Homo sapiens: one gene and its partners. The protein of the gene in region 3 interacts with the protein of the main gene of each other region in a biochemical or structural test. Each region holds a gene or a part of one and is shown on either strand. Other genes may lie near its edges.

Evidence for each region.
Region 1: the proteins of UBE2Q2 (region 3) and HECTD3 form a complex in vitro, tested with the Homo sapiens proteins (one study listed by BioGRID).
Region 2: of the proteins of UBE2Q2 (region 3) and UBA1, one has a biochemical effect on the other in vitro, tested with the Homo sapiens proteins (3 studies listed by BioGRID).
Region 4: the proteins of UBE2Q2 (region 3) and ITCH form a complex in vitro, tested with the Homo sapiens proteins (one study listed by BioGRID).

What each region holds. Positions count from the first base shown.
Region 1 is NC_000001.11:45,004,916-45,008,324, reverse strand, and holds part of HECTD3 (E3 ubiquitin-protein ligase HECTD3), read left to right. Parts: intron 1-3; coding exon 4-85; intron 86-729; coding exon 730-912; intron 913-1,053; coding exon 1,054-1,106; intron 1,107-1,309; coding exon 1,310-1,374; intron 1,375-1,529; coding exon 1,530-1,633; intron 1,634-2,208; coding exon 2,209-2,328; intron 2,329-2,441; coding exon 2,442-2,531; intron 2,532-3,409. UniProt on the Homo sapiens protein: E3 ubiquitin ligases accepts ubiquitin from an E2 ubiquitin-conjugating enzyme in the form of a thioester and then directly transfers the ubiquitin to targeted substrates.
Region 2 is NC_000023.11:47,207,329-47,211,099, forward strand, and holds part of UBA1 (ubiquitin-like modifier-activating enzyme 1), read left to right. Parts: intron 1-2,294; coding exon 2,295-2,359; intron 2,360-2,599; coding exon 2,600-2,795; intron 2,796-3,513; coding exon 3,514-3,588; intron 3,589-3,707; coding exon 3,708-3,771. UniProt on the Homo sapiens protein: Catalyzes the first step in ubiquitin conjugation to mark cellular proteins for degradation through the ubiquitin-proteasome system.
Region 3 is NC_000015.10:75,877,646-75,881,688, forward strand, and holds part of UBE2Q2 (ubiquitin-conjugating enzyme E2 Q2), read left to right. Parts: intron 1-315; coding exon 316-376; intron 377-1,452; coding exon 1,453-1,543; intron 1,544-4,043.
Region 4 is NC_000020.11:34,366,273-34,370,043, forward strand, and holds part of ITCH (E3 ubiquitin-protein ligase Itchy homolog), read left to right. Parts: intron 1-3,121; 5' UTR 3,122-3,198; intron 3,199-3,771. UniProt on the Homo sapiens protein: Acts as an Acts as an E3 ubiquitin-protein ligase which accepts ubiquitin from an E2 ubiquitin-conjugating enzyme in the form of a thioester and then directly transfers the ubiquitin to targeted substrates.

The DNA of each region.
Region 1 (3,409 bases), on a different chromosome or scaffold from region 3:
CAGATTCATCAAGATCCTCGATAGTGTCCTGCACCACCTGGTACCTGCCTGGGACCACACACTGGGCACCTTCAGTGAGATTAAGGTGAGCCGACCCAGCCAGTGCTGGTCTTGGCATTTCCCCTTCCTGCTCACGTAGTTGTTCATTCCTTAGCAGAGTTCCTAAAATCTACTCTAGGGCAAGACCTTTGCTGGGTCTGGGAACATAGGAAGAAAGCCAGAACAAATGGTCCAAATTTAGTGTTTGGGAGGCTGTTCCCCAGCCTCCTTGGTATTCCAGAGTGTGTGGAATACCCAAGGGCTATTGACAGCACAGGCAGGGCAGTTTGCGTGAAAGGTACATACAGGGAGTTACCAGCAGCTCAAGATGTCTTGAGAAAAGTGTGCCAGTAGGTGTGAGTATGACAGAGGGATGAGGGTGGAAGGATGTGGGCAGGAGACAGGTCCTGGTTGCAGAGGGCCCTGTGGGCCAGGCTGTGAAGCAAGGACTTTGTCCCAGGGTAGTGGAGCTGTTGGAAAGGTAAGGAAGGTAATGACAGTATTAGATTTTTTTGTTTTAGAAAGCTCTCCCTGGTGGCTGAACTAAGGAGGGGACTGGAGACAAAGACAGGGATGGACTAGACTTGAACTGAAACGGTGGAATTGGATACAGGCAGAGGGGAAAGTTCCAGGGCCTGGACGGAGGCTGACTGCCCACTCATTCCTGCTCTGGCCACCTCTCCTCACTAGCAAGTGAAGCAGTTCCTACTGCTGTCCCGCCAGCGGCCAGGCCTGGTGGCTCAGTGCCTGCGTGACTCTGAGAGCAGCAAGCCCAGCTTCATGCCACGCCTATACATCAACCGCCGTCTTGCCATGGAACACCGTGCCTGCCCCTCTCGAGACCCTGCCTGCAAGAATGCAGTCTTCACCCAGGTCTGCACCACCTAGGGTCCGACTGAGATAGGATCAGTCAAGGGCCAAGGGGGCTAGGCCAAGAGGGACCTGAACAAGTTCTTGGGGCAAGTATAGGGCCAGGTCTTGCTTTCCTATGACTCCTTTCCTCCTTGCCTCCAGGTATATGAAGGCCTCAAGCCCTCTGACAAATATGAAAAGCCCCTGGACTACAGGTATGGCATGAGAGTGAGGGACTTACTCGGGACACCTGTTTGTGCACACAAACACACACAAACACACACACACACACACACACACACACACAACTGCTCGAGGCACCCCTCGCCATGACTGCTTTTCCCAGGTGGTCTCTGAGCTGATGAATTGTGCTGCACCTGGCCCCACATAATGACAAATCTGCCCACGTTTTTTGCAGGTGGCCCATGCGCTATGACCAGTGGTGGGAGTGTAAATTTATTGCAGAAGGCATCATTGACCAAGGTGAGGCCCTGAGGGAGGATCTCAAGGGTCCTGCTTGCTGCCCTATCAAAGTGGTAGAGGCTTTTCACCAGCTAATGATGATGGGGGACCTATTCATTACCCCATTATGGGAGCTGGGCTCTTGAGTGCCCAGCTGAGGGCATCTGTCATTTCAGGGGGTGGTTTCCGGGACAGCCTGGCAGATATGTCAGAAGAGCTGTGCCCTAGCTCAGCGGATACCCCCGTGCCCCTGCCCTTCTTTGTACGCACAGCCAACCAGGTAATCTCCGTTTCCATCTCTGCAAACCTCCCAGGTGCCAGATTGAGCTAGAAAGGGGGCAGAGGAGGGGGCCAGATTGAGCTAGAAAGGGGGCAGGCACAGTGGCTCACGCCTGTAATCCCAGCACTTTGGGAAGCCGAGGCGGGCAGATCACGAGGTCAGGAGTTCAAGACCAGCCTGGCCAATGAAGTGAAGCCCCATCTCTATAAAAATAAAAAATTAGCCGGGCGTGGTGGCACGCGCCTGTAGTCCCAGCTACATGGGAGGCTGAAGCAGGCGACTCGCTTGAACCCAGGAGACGGAGGTTGCAGTGAGCCGAGATCACGCCACTGCACTCCAGCCTGGGTGACACAGTGAGACTCTGTCTCAAAAAAAAAAAAAAATAGAAATAGGGCAGAGGAGGGACTGAGTTGCTCAGGGCAACCTCTGGGCAGACAGGGAGAGGAGGAGCCACTGTGCATTTGAAGGGATCATTTAGTGGAAAATGTTCCCAGTGGAAAATGTTCAGGGAAGTCTTTGGGCCAGGAAAATAGGGTGTATCTCATGCCACACTCACAGCTCTGTCTCTGGGGCAGGGCAATGGCACTGGTGAGGCTCGGGACATGTATGTACCCAACCCCTCCTGCCGAGACTTTGCCAAGTATGAATGGATCGGACAGCTGATGGGGGCTGCCCTTCGGGGTAAGGAGTTCCTGGTGAGTAGCCTTATCCACACCCCCGTCCGATCAGCCCTGGCCCTTGGAAGGAAAGGCCAGCCAAACCTGGGCAGCTCAGGGTGAGAAGACAGTGGGGAGTGTTTGTCACACAGGTCCTGGCCCTGCCTGGTTTTGTGTGGAAGCAGCTTTCTGGTGAGGAGGTGAGCTGGAGCAAGGACTTCCCAGCTGTGGACTCTGTGCTGGTGAGTAGGACCTGGAACCAGTGTTTCCTCTGCCCAGCCCCTAAAGGTTGGTCCTCCCTAAGGCTGTTCTGTACCTTGTTCTTTCACCACACACAAGATCCCTCTCCAATCCATCCACTCCCATGGCTTCAACTACTGTCTGTAGACTCGTGACCCCTAAAATCCTGACCTCTAGCCCCAGCCTCTCCTAAGCCTGGGGCCATATATGTATCTGTACCCTCGACGTTTGCCCCAAGATGGCATCTCAGGCTCAGTGTGTTCTTTATCTTCTCCGAAGACTACTCCCCTCTAGGGCTCCTGCCTCAGAAGGGCACCATGTCCCACTCCTCCCCATCCCAAAGCCCACAGGGCCATCCTTCACCCCTTCTTCTCCCTCGCCACCATATTCTTAAGTCTTCCTCTGTAATCTGTTTGCTTTTCCTGTCTCACTACTGTCTCCCTGCCTGGTTGAGGACACCTTTCCTCCTTAGCTAATCACTTACTAAAAAGCTGGTGTCCCTGTCTCCGTTCTTACCCGTTTGGTCTCCATGCAGCCACAGTAATTCATTTCACTCTCCTTATTTAAACTCATTGATGGCTCGGCCCTGGGCTTAGGATAGAATGCAGAATCTGTAAAGGCCTTACGTGAACCCTGTGTCTCCAGCCACTTGGTTCACATTCAGGCTCCAGCCACACAGTTTCCTTAGGCCTTTTGCTCTTTCCAGCTTTCTCCAAGATGTTCTCTCTCCTAACTTCCCTTATGTCCCAGCCATCATTTGGGTCTCAGCTGAGACACCATTTTCCACAGGATGCCTCCTCTGGCCTCCAAGGCTGGTTAGGTGTTGTCTTGATGCTTTTACAGCTCTTGTACTGACACCCTCATTCCCTGCTGCCTCCAT
Region 2 (3,771 bases), on a different chromosome or scaffold from region 3:
GAATTGTCTCGGGCCACACATAAAATATACTAATACTAACGATAGCTGATGAGCTGAAAAAATAAAAGAAAAAAAGATCCGTGCATAAATCTCATAATGTCTTAAGAAAATTTACAAATTTGTGTTGGGCAGCATTCAAAGTCATCCTGGGCTGCATATGGGCCACAGGTTAGACAAGCTTGATCTAGCTGAAGTTTTACAAAGTGAACACACAGGTGACCACCACCTGGGCCAAGAAACAGAACCTAGGGATTACCATTGTGCTGTCAGAATAATTCTTAGTGCAGTGTTTGAGGCCAAACCATTTAGAATAGTAGGAGTATGAGGGTGGGAACAAAATAGGGAAGGGAAAAAAAAAACAGTTCCATCTGTCACTTTCTCCCTTCTGACACTGCAGTTCCAGAGTGGGTATGTTTGTATTTGTGCACCAACCACAGTCTTGCTAGGTCATGTGTAACCTTGAACTTAACCTCTCTGTGCCGCAGATTCCTGTTCTGTAAAATGGGAATGACAGCATCTACCTCACAGGACTATTGTGAACCACTTGGCATTTACTGTGTGCCTGGCACTGTTTTAACCAAGCTTTAAATATATATGTATTTGCTCATTTCTTCCTAGCAACCCCATGAAGGTAGGTATCACTGTTGTAACACCTGTTTTAGAGACAAGGCACAGAGGTAAAGATGTTATCCTGTGTGCCTGAAGTCACAAAACTAGGTAATACGTGGCATAGCTGGAATCTGAACCTGAATTTCTAACATCTGTACACTCCAAACCACCTCGCTAATGACTGCGAACTGTCCTAGGAATTCTCAGAGGCCAGAAGTTCTGTCTTGTTTGCTATTTTATTTTTTGAGACAGGTCTCATTCTGCCATTCAGGCTGAAGTGTATTGGCACAATCATAGCTCACTGCAACCTTCCAACTCCTGGGAAGTGTCTGTACGTGTGTGTGTGTGTGTGTGTAAGTGTCTGTGTGTACGTGTAAGTGTGTGTACGTGTGTGTGTGTGTGTGTGCGCACGCACGCGTGCCCGTTACGTTGACCAGGCTGGTTGTAAACTCCTGGGCTCAAGTGATCCACCTGCCTCAGCCTCCAAAAGTGCTGGGATTACATGTGTAAGCCTCTGTGTCCGGCCTCTGTCTTGTTTTCTGCCAAGTCCTCAGGGCCTGGATAGGGATCATTGTTGGTTTGGTCTGAGTTTTTTGTGTTTTAAAAAACTGTGGTAAGATATACCTAATTGAAGTTTTTATTTTTTATGGAGGCATAACATATCTAGAATAAGGTACACAGATTTTTTTTTTTTTTTTTTTGAGGTGGAGTTTTGCTCATGTTGCCCAGGTTGGAGTGCAGTGGCGCAGTCTCGGCTCACTGCAGCCTCCGCCTCCCAGGTTCAAGCGATTCTCCTGCCTCAGCCTTCCAAAGTGCTGGGAATACAGGCGTGAGCCACCTCGCCTGGCACTCAGATCTTAATACATTTTTAGGCTGGGCATGGCGGCTGACACCTATAATCTCAGCACTCAGGAGGCCAAGGAGTGAGGTTTGTTTGAGCCCAGGAGTTCAAGACCAGCCTAGGCAACATAGCAAGACCCTGTCTCTACAACAAATCTTAAAAATTAGCCGGGTGTGGTGGCATGTGCCTGCTGTCCCAGCTATTCGGGAGGCTGAGGTGGGAGGATCGTTTCAACCTGGGAGGTCAAGGCTGCTGTGAGCCGTGATTGCATCGCTGCACTCCAGCTCGGGTGACAGTGTGAGACTTTGTCTCAAACAACAAAACAAAACAGTTTTCCACATACACAGCACTATTGTAACCACTGCCCAAATCAACTTCATTGATTTTTCTTTTTTTGAGACAGTCTTCCTCTGTCACCCAGGCTGGAGTGCAATGGCATGATCTCGGCTCACTGCAACCTCCGCCTCCCGGGTTCAAGAGATTTCCTGCCTCAGCCTCCTGAGTAGCTGGGATTACAGGCATCTGCCACCACGCCCAGCTACTTTTTGTATTTTTAGTAGAGATGGGGTTTCACCATGTTGGTCAGGCTGGTCTCGAACCCTTGACCTCAGGTGATCCATCTGCCTTAGCCTCCCAAAGTGCTGGGATTACAGGTGTGAGCTACTGTGCCTGGCCTGGTTTTTCAATTGAGGTGGGGGAATGGGGAAGGCTAGAGGGCTTCCCCACTTCCAGAGTAGCTGTGCGCCTTGTACTTGCTTTATTCACTGATGGTCCTTCTAATAATGCCTGCGGAAACCCATTTTGTCAACTGTGGCCACATGTAATCTGTTTGCTCTGTCTGCAGTGGGCTCGGGATGAGTTTGAAGGCCTCTTCAAGCAGCCAGCAGAAAATGTCAACCAGTACCTCACGTGAGTAACTCGAGTGCCCTCTCGCCCTGTCCCTGTCCACCAGCCAAGGCATCCCGGCTGCTTTCCTCATGACAGTAACACTTGGCACCAGGCACACTTTTCACATGAATGAGTGGCTGTTGGGGCCTCATGTTGTTTGGGGTCGGGACTAGTTTTCCATGGAGAAAGTAAGATTGCTCTGGAGCCCACTCTTGAGGCTGACATGTAATCCTATCCTCTGTCCTCTTCGATTCCTGATAGAGACCCCAAGTTTGTGGAGCGAACACTGCGGCTGGCAGGCACTCAGCCCTTGGAGGTGCTGGAGGCTGTGCAGCGCAGCCTGGTGCTGCAGCGACCACAGACCTGGGCTGACTGCGTGACCTGGGCCTGCCACCACTGGCACACCCAGTACTCGAACAACATCCGGCAGCTGCTGCACAACTTCCCTCCTGACCAGGTAATGCCCAGTTGTTGGGTCCATTTGGCAGAATGTGTTTCCCTGAAATGGGAGCCTGCAGTGTGGGTCCTCCCACTGTGGAGTCCAGCTGTGGCAGGTGCCCTGAGGCATGGGGATCTGAGAAGAGTGATTGATCCTGACCTGCTTTTTCCTCACCCTAGTTCCTTTGAGCAAAGAGGCTTGGTTGCTATTGCCCTTGACTGTGGTGTGGGCTGCGTCATACCTGATTCCCAGTCAGGGCTGTAGGGATTATGGGGGAGAAATTCTGGAGTTAAGAGCACAGGAATCAATATGGGTTCAAATCCAAACTCTACTTGAACTTAGGCAAATCACGTAACTTCTCTCTGTACCTCAGTTTCCTCGTCTGTGAAGTAGAAATAATAGTGATCTATCTCATGGGGGGTTTGGGGAGGATTAACTGGTATTTATTAAAATGAAGTTAGTACAATGCCTGGTAATCCATGAGAGTTTGTTAAATGATGGGCTGTTTAGCACAAAATGGCTACCCAGTGATTGGTAATTGTTCTCTCAGCCAGATCTCTGGTTCAACCTGTGGGACCCTACAGTTGAGGTATTTTGTGATTGGCTCCAGTCCGCATCGAGTGCCCAACCCAAGATAGTGAATTGGGGGCACATCTGGGGCCTAGGTGAAGCGTGAAGATTGTCAGAGAGGCCTTCACTCTCAGGTCCTGTTCTCAAAAATCTCTCCATCCCTTAGCTCACAAGCTCAGGAGCGCCGTTCTGGTCTGGGCCCAAACGCTGTCCACACCCGCTCACCTTTGATGTCAACAATGTAAGTCTCCTTTCTAGGGTCTTCTGGGGTCAGGTGGAGGGTGAATAGGTGGGAAGGAGGTGGCGGCTCCCCACTCGAGGGCTGATGTGCTCACCCTTCCCTGCCCTGCCTTCTCCTAGCCCCTGCATCTGGACTATGTGATGGCTGCTGCCAACCTGTTTGCCCAGACCTACGGGCTGACAG
Region 3 (4,043 bases):
CTTTGTAGAAATGTGTGTTCATGGAAGAAAAGTCTTAAGTACATATGATTTTGCATAATCTTTTTTTCAGTCAGACTAAACGGTAAGCAGTTTTTCAACTCATTAAAGAATCTTCTCAGTTGATGGCTGTAATTATCTGTTAAGGGCATAAGATACTCAGCTGCAGTAGTGTAATATTTACTATATAGCTTAGTTGTTCCATGTTTTAAGAGCAAAATTTCTAGCTTTCGTTGGCTATTTAGTGTATACATTTATACCATAGTAATAGTTATATGATGAAATGAAGAGTAGCTAACATGCTCTATATCTTAACAGGGATTTATTCAGTGGAACTCATAAATGACAGTTTATATGACTGGCATGTTAAACTGCAGAAGTAAGTGGCTTTTTAATGCTCACCCACTCTTTGCAATGGTAGACTATCACAGTGGAGGTTATTTTCCTTCTAACTTGATACCTTTATACTATGGCTTTTACTTAGAACTTTAGACTTTGTTTCTATAGAAATAGTTCTTAGATTGTTTAAATGAGCTGTTGCTGAGGTCTAATAAGAAAGTGAGAAAGAGGAAGGACAGAAAGAGGGACCAGCTGCGGGATAAAGTGTTTTATGGAGTTAGAGCAGGGGAACTTAAAAACAAAAGTGTATTTAATAACTTCATGAGACTGTGATAACCAGTTTATATTTGAAATATATACAGCACTTTGGGAGACTGAGGTGAGAGGATCTCTTGAGCCCAGGAGTTTGAGACCAGCCTGGGCAACATAGCAAGACTTCATCTCTACAAAAAAAAAAAAATTAGCCAGGCATGGTGGAGTACACCTGTAGTCCCAGCTACTGGGGGTGGTGGGAGGCTGAGGCAGGAAGATCTTGCACTCCAGACATCAAGGCTGCAGTGAGTCACGATCGTATCACTATATTCCAGCCTGGGCAACAGAATGAGGCACCCGGTCTCTTAAAAAAAAAAAAAAAAAAAAAAAAAAAGTTGGGGGGAGGTGGGATTCAAATTAGACCTGTATATATAGGACAGTTGTAGACAAATACAGGTTTTTTTAGTGATTTAAGTTTTCATAGTTCTGACCATGGCAAACTTTTCTCCTTGAACCCTTTGGCTAATAATGTAAGTTTAATATGCTTTCCTAAACTTTTTTTGAGTTCTTGAGAAAATTATATTCATGTGACTATTTTCCTTTAGAGTGACTGCAAACTCTGAACTCCTTTACTAGATTAGATTTAGAGTATTATGGTCTCTTTTGGACATTTATTCCCAAGGAGCTGGAACCTATGGTGACCTCTATTTTTCCTGGTGATACAGAGCAGCTTTAGACCTTCTCTTTCTGGAACTTGCCCTAGGTGCTCTATTTTAGCTGTCATACTAGTTCATTTTTGAGTTTAGTTAAAAAAAAAAATCTCTAACTTTTTATTTGAACTGTTTTTTGTTTTGTAATTCTTAGGGTTGACCCTGATAGTCCTTTGCACAGTGATCTTCAGATCTTAAAAGAAAAAGAAGGCATAGAATATATTTTGCTTAACTTCTCTTTTAAGGTAAGAAAATAGTTACAGGACCCCATATACTTCCAGTGGGGTGCGTATATTTGTACAAGTGCTTTGGAAAACAATTTGGTAAAGTAGAAGATACTCATACCCTATGGTTCAGGAATCTCGTAGACATATTCTCCGTTAAGACGTGAGTACTTAGGCGTACCAGGAGACACAGGAATGTTCAGAGCAGCATCGTTTATAATAGCACCAAATAGAAAACCCAAGTGTTCATTCCAATAAAATGGAGAATTGTGGTGTTTATAAAGTGGTTTACAGCTATGTGGGACAAGATGGGTGGATCTTGAACACAGTTGTAAAAGAGACTGGACTCCAAAACCTATTTTGTACAATTCCCTTTATATACAGTTCAAAAATAGGTAAAACTAATGTTGATTAGGGCATGCATTCTTAGTGGAGGCAATATCACCTGCAGTGTAGTGAAAACTGATCTTTAGAGTGAAAACAATCTTAGCTATTAAAATGGTCTGCTGCCCTCCAAAGGGCCACAGAACATAAACAGATATACGATTTATCTATGGTGTTAAAATTCCATGGAGCAGGGGGGTAAAACTAGGAAGAAAACTTCTAAAAAGGCTTCTTAGGGGGGCAAAAATGAAAAGAAAACTGAGAAACACTTATTTATGGATTCATACGTGAGCAGTAAAACTGCCCAAAGAGGAAAACTGTCCAAGAACAAAGAGGTGATTACATACAGGTTAGGGTAAGGAGTCCATCTAGGTGGGAGGTAGGGAGGTGTGAACTGAAAGGTATATCTGCGCAGGCTTCTTGGATACTGGCTGGAATATATTTCTGGGCCAGGTTGATGGTTACATGAGCACATAATTTACAATAGCTTCTTAAGGTATATCTCTATATTTTATGTACTTTTCTGAATTTATGTGTTATATTTAATAAGGTTTTTTTTTGTTTGTTTGTTTGTTTTTTGAGACAGAGTCTTGCTCTGTTGCCCAGGCTGGAGTTCAGTGGCACAGTTTTGGCTCACTGCAACCTCTGCCTCCTAGGTTCAAGTGATTCTCCTGCCTCAGCCTCCTGAGTAGCTGGGATTACAGGTGCATGTCACCATGCCCGGCTAATTTTTTTATTTTTAGTAGAGACGGGGTTTCACCATGTTTGCCAGGTTGGTCTTGAATTCCTAACCTCAGGTGATCTGCCTGCCTCGGCCTCCCAAAGTGCTGGGATTATAGGTGTGAGCCACCACACCTGGCCTAATAAGTATTTTAAAGATGCTAAAAATAATGGTTAAAGAATAGCAATGGAATCTAGAAAAAATGTTAATGATTTTTTTTTTTTTTTGAGACAGAATCTTGCTCTGTTGCCCAGGCTGGAGTGCAGTGGCCCAGGCTGGCGTGTGGTGGCACAATCTTGGCTCACTGCAACCTCTGCCTCCCGGGTTTAAGCAGTTCTCTGCCCCAGCCCCCCGAGTAGCTGGGATTATAGGCATGTGCCACTATGTCCGCATAATTTTTGTATTTTTAGTAGAGATGGGGTTTCACCATCTTGGCCAGGCTGGTTTTGAACTCCTGACCTCATGGTACACTTCCCTTGGCCTTCCAAAGTGCTGGGATTACAGGCGTGATTTAATATGGATCTGGATGAGATGTAATGGTTTAAAATCTGTGGATATATGAGATATTTTGATGGAAAAAGCAATACTTCCTTTGTACTTACAAAAAAGGTAGTAATTTTCTAAAAGCTTCTTACGTAGCTTTTTTATGTGTGTGTTTTTGCTTGGGGATATATCTTATGATTGAACTTTCTTGAAGTGACCCAAATGTCAGTATTATCTCTCACTTTTGTTATTATAGAAACTGTTGTGGTTGTCAACTGGGTTGTCTTCCTAAAATATGAGTCTGGTATATATTGACTGAAGTTGCTAATGGCTACATTTTTACTAATTCATATGGGGGAACGAATAAAGCACCCAGGCCAAAAACAAAAAACAAAACACACAAAAAAGGAAGGTATCTTTCTTTTTAAAAAATTGAATTATATGTCCTTATGCCTAACACCAAACTTAAGAAATAGAACCTTTTTTTTTTTTATCCGTCCCTGTGGCCCCCTGTGTGCCCCTCCCTTGTCACTTCCTCTTTGAGAGGTATCTTTACGGGAATATGAAATATTGGCCAGGAAACTGGAGGATTTGTGACTATAGGTAGTGTTTTCATTATTTTTTCCTGCTCTAGGTAGAACTTCAGGGAGGGGACGATCTGGGAGGTAAATGGCTGAATTTCTGTTGGATTTGTGTTTCTGGACCATGGCTCCTGATACCACAAAGAAGGGCCTTTTCTGGGGTTGGAGTATTTCTTGAGAGGCCTAGGAAGAATGTGATTGCCTTGAGCTAACTGACCTTATGAAGAGGACCTTAAACTGAATTGCCAAGTTATTAGTATCGGGATTCACAGACTTTGGAGGATAGCAGGTATGACTCAGAAAGATTTGCAGGAAAGAGCCAGAACAGTATATATTTATGGCCTCTGATGTC
Region 4 (3,771 bases), on a different chromosome or scaffold from region 3:
CTCACCCAGTCACGCAGGATGGAGTGCAGTGACAGGACCTCCAGAGCTCAAGTGATCTTCCCACCCCAGCCTCCCTGAGTAGCTGGGACAACAGGCATGCATTAGCATGCCTGGCTAATTTTTAAAATTTTTTTGTAGAGAAAGGTTCTCTTTACGTTGCCCAGTCTGGTCTTAACTCCTGTGTTCAAGTGGTCCTCCCACCTTGGCCTCCTAAAGTGTTGGGATTACAGGTGTAAGCTACTGTGCTCTGGCTAAAAATTTTAAGTATAATGCTAAAAATTTGGAATTTTATGTTGGTAGAAATAGATACAGGGCTGGGCTCAGTGCCTCACACCTGTAATCTCAACAGTTTGGGAGGCTGAGGCGGGTGAATCGCTTGAGCTCAGGAGTTTGAGACCAGCCTGGGCAACATGGTGATATCCCGTCTTTACCAAAAGGAAGGAAAAAAAAAAGAAATAGATGCAGATTTTTCGACAGGGAAATGATGTGAGTACATATGTGTTTTAGAAAATTGCTGTGTACTGCAGGACAAAGATAGGTATCAAAAAACAAAAAAAGAAAGATTGCTCTGGTGATGAGCGAAAGGATGAGGGACTAGCTATTGCAGAAGTCTAGTTGAGAAATGACAAAGCCTGACCTTGGAGAGAGGTTGTGGGGATGATCAAAGGATTGGATTTAGCTTTTTACTAGTGCAATATTGTTGCCATATTTCTAGATGAGGATTTTTTTTTAGAGCTAATCTGGGTAAAGGGCTCCTTTTCTGTCAAAAGAACCCATTAGCAAGTCTGAATAATATTGCCAGGTTATATATGTTATGTATAGTATGAGAGTGAATTGTTCATTAGCATCTTTGAGAAATTAGAAAGAACTATGTCAGGTGTAATTTGGAAGAGAACTTGAAGTTTGTTATTGTTACTATTTTTGAGATGGAGTCTTGCTCGGCCATGCAGGCTGGAGTGCAGTGATGTGATCTCGGCTCACTGCAACCTCCACCTCCCGGGTTCAAGCGATTCGTGTGCCTCAGCCTCCCAAGTAGCTGCCTCCCAAGTAGCTGGAATTAGAGGTGCATGCCACCAAGCCTGGCTAATTTAGAACTTGGAGTTTGGACTGAAATTTATGCCTCTAAAAAGTATTGATCTAGGCTTGTTGGGAGTGTTTTTCTCTCAGCCTGTAGAAACTTGCTCATTGAGTTTTAGAGTTGGGAGAAGTTACAGAGATTATCTAGTCCATAATGGCAAATATATTTTGGTTTATTGGCCAGCTCTAATTGGAAGCTGCCAGAAGCACTGTGTTTGGAAGGATTCTGGTTGTAGGTGCTCTGAGAAATTGTATTATGGTTGATCAATGATGTCTCCTGTGGACAGTTACCTAGTAGGTAGTAGACATGTGCCAAATATATGCTATTCTTAGATAAGTCCAATCTCTTAGTTTTCTGTTTTGTTGTTGTTTGTTTGTTTTAAAGGTTAAATAATTTACCTGAAACTAGTTAAGAGTAAGAACTAGAACTAGAACTGGGTTTTGCAACTCTGGGACTGGTATTCTCTGGTTTACAAAGATCAATGTGCACTACTGAAGAGCTTCTGGTATTAGACTAGAAAAAGAAAAGGGAGATTTTTAGCCTATGCGTCTTGACTGTTTAGGCAAGAGTTTAACAAGGAATTTTGGCCTAGAAGTAAGTTTTGTTATATTCATTCTGTCTTAAGAAATTTGTGTTAGGGCCGGGCGCGGTGGCTCATGCCTGTAATCCCAGCATTTTGGGAGGCTGAAGCGGGCAGATCACGAGGTCAGGAGATCGAGATCATCCTGGCCAACGTGGTGAAACCCCCATCTCTACTAAAATACAAAAAATTAGCTGGGTGTGGTGGCATGCACCTGTAGTACCAGCTACTTGGGAGGCTGAGGCAGGAGAACCACTTGAACCTGGGAGGCGGAGGTTGCAGTGAGCTGAGATTGTGCCACTGCACTCCAGCCTGGCAACAAGAATGAGACTCTGTCTCAAAAGAAAAAAAAAAAAAAATTCGTGTTAGTACTGATAGGAAATAGTCATCTGTTTTGTTGTTTTGCCACTTTCTTTCTTGTTGCCTAAGTCTCTGTTTTGGGTTTTGGACATTGGTTTCCTTTATAAGAATTAAGACAAAAGTATGTAAGGTTTTTTTTTTTGTATTTATAGTACTTAGCCAAATTCTGGGCTCATAATAAGCACTCAGTAAAGGCATGTTGACTTTTATGGCTGTAAATGATACTGGCTTTGAGTCAATATAAATTAGTTAGGGGGTTCACAGAATTGAATTGCAGCATTCTCTGGTTGGGAGGTTGGCTTTCAGCTAAAAACGTTAAGTTGGAAACTATCCTCACAACTAGAAGCAGTTAACCAGAAGCTGTTCCTGCCTCTATCCTCCTCCAGTCTAGCAGTGTACTGTCCTTGAAAAACTGCTGCCAGCTCAGCTTTTTTGCTTCTTTTCAGAACTGACTATATCCAGATCCTTGGTGTGCGTTTTCTTTTCCTGTCCCTAGGAGTCTCCAAGTTGCAGGGACTATCATTATGGTGACCCTTATAGGCTGGTGTATTTATATGGCCATCCTCATTTTGCCAGATAGCCGTCATACTCAGATTGGTGTCTTCCCATAATACGTATGAATCATTTTCCCTCAGTTCTTTCTTTTGTCCTGTCTGCTCCATTAAAAATTGTCTATCCCATGAAATTTTTAAAAGAGACTTTGTGCTTTTAGAGTCGCAAGGTCGTTGCAGATCTGATGTGTTTAACTATAGAGGTCAGCTGGGTGTGGTGGCTCACGCCTGTAATCCCAGCACTTTGGGAGGCTGAGGTGGGTGGATCACGAGGTCAGGAGTTCAAGACCAGCCTGACCAATATGGTGAAACCCCATCTCTACTAAAAATACGAAAGTTAGCCAGGCGTGGGGGTGCACGCCCGTAGTGTAGTCCCAGCTACTCAGGAGGCTGAGGCAGAAGAATCGCTTGAACCCAGGAGGCGAAGGTTGGAGTGAGCCAATATCATGCCACTGCACTCTAGCCTGGCGACAGAGCAAGACTCCATCTCAAAAACAAACAAACAAAAAAATATAGAAGTAATGTGTTAATGGACTCTCCTTCCTTTCTCAGGTACCATGCATTTCACGGTGGCCTTGTGGAGACAACGCCTTAACCCAAGGAAGTGACTCAAACTGTGAGAACTTCAGGTATGGTGTCATCCTGTGAGAGAAATTGGGGGCAAGAGTGATGCAGAGGCCAAGCTCTGGTCTTATACCTGCTGTGAGGAGAGAGCAGTGTTGATGCTAGCTGCATCAGTTGGTTGAACATATAGGCAGCTTCACTTGGTTCTGAAACCCAAAGCTGCCTCTGCAGGGATTAGCCTGTGAGCCACACTGTGCTCTTAATTTGGGTTTTCTGACTTTTCTGTTTTTGTAGATCCCTTATACATATGCATACTTTTTCTATTTGTGTTGTTTTATACACGTTTATCTCTGTATACTATCTAGACATGTGCATGTGTAGGATTAAGAGGTGGGTAATGAAAAAGAAGACAACATGGCCAGGTGCAGTGGCTCATGCCTGTAATTCCAGCACTTTGTGGGGCGAAGGTGGGAGGATCACTTGAACCCAAGAGTTTGGGACCAGCCTGGACAACATGGCGAGACCCTGACTCCACACAAAATAAAAAAAAATCAGCTGGTGTGGTGGCGTGTACCTGTAATCCTAGCTGATTGGGAGGGTGACATGGGAGGATCACTTGAGCCAGGAGGTTGAGGCTG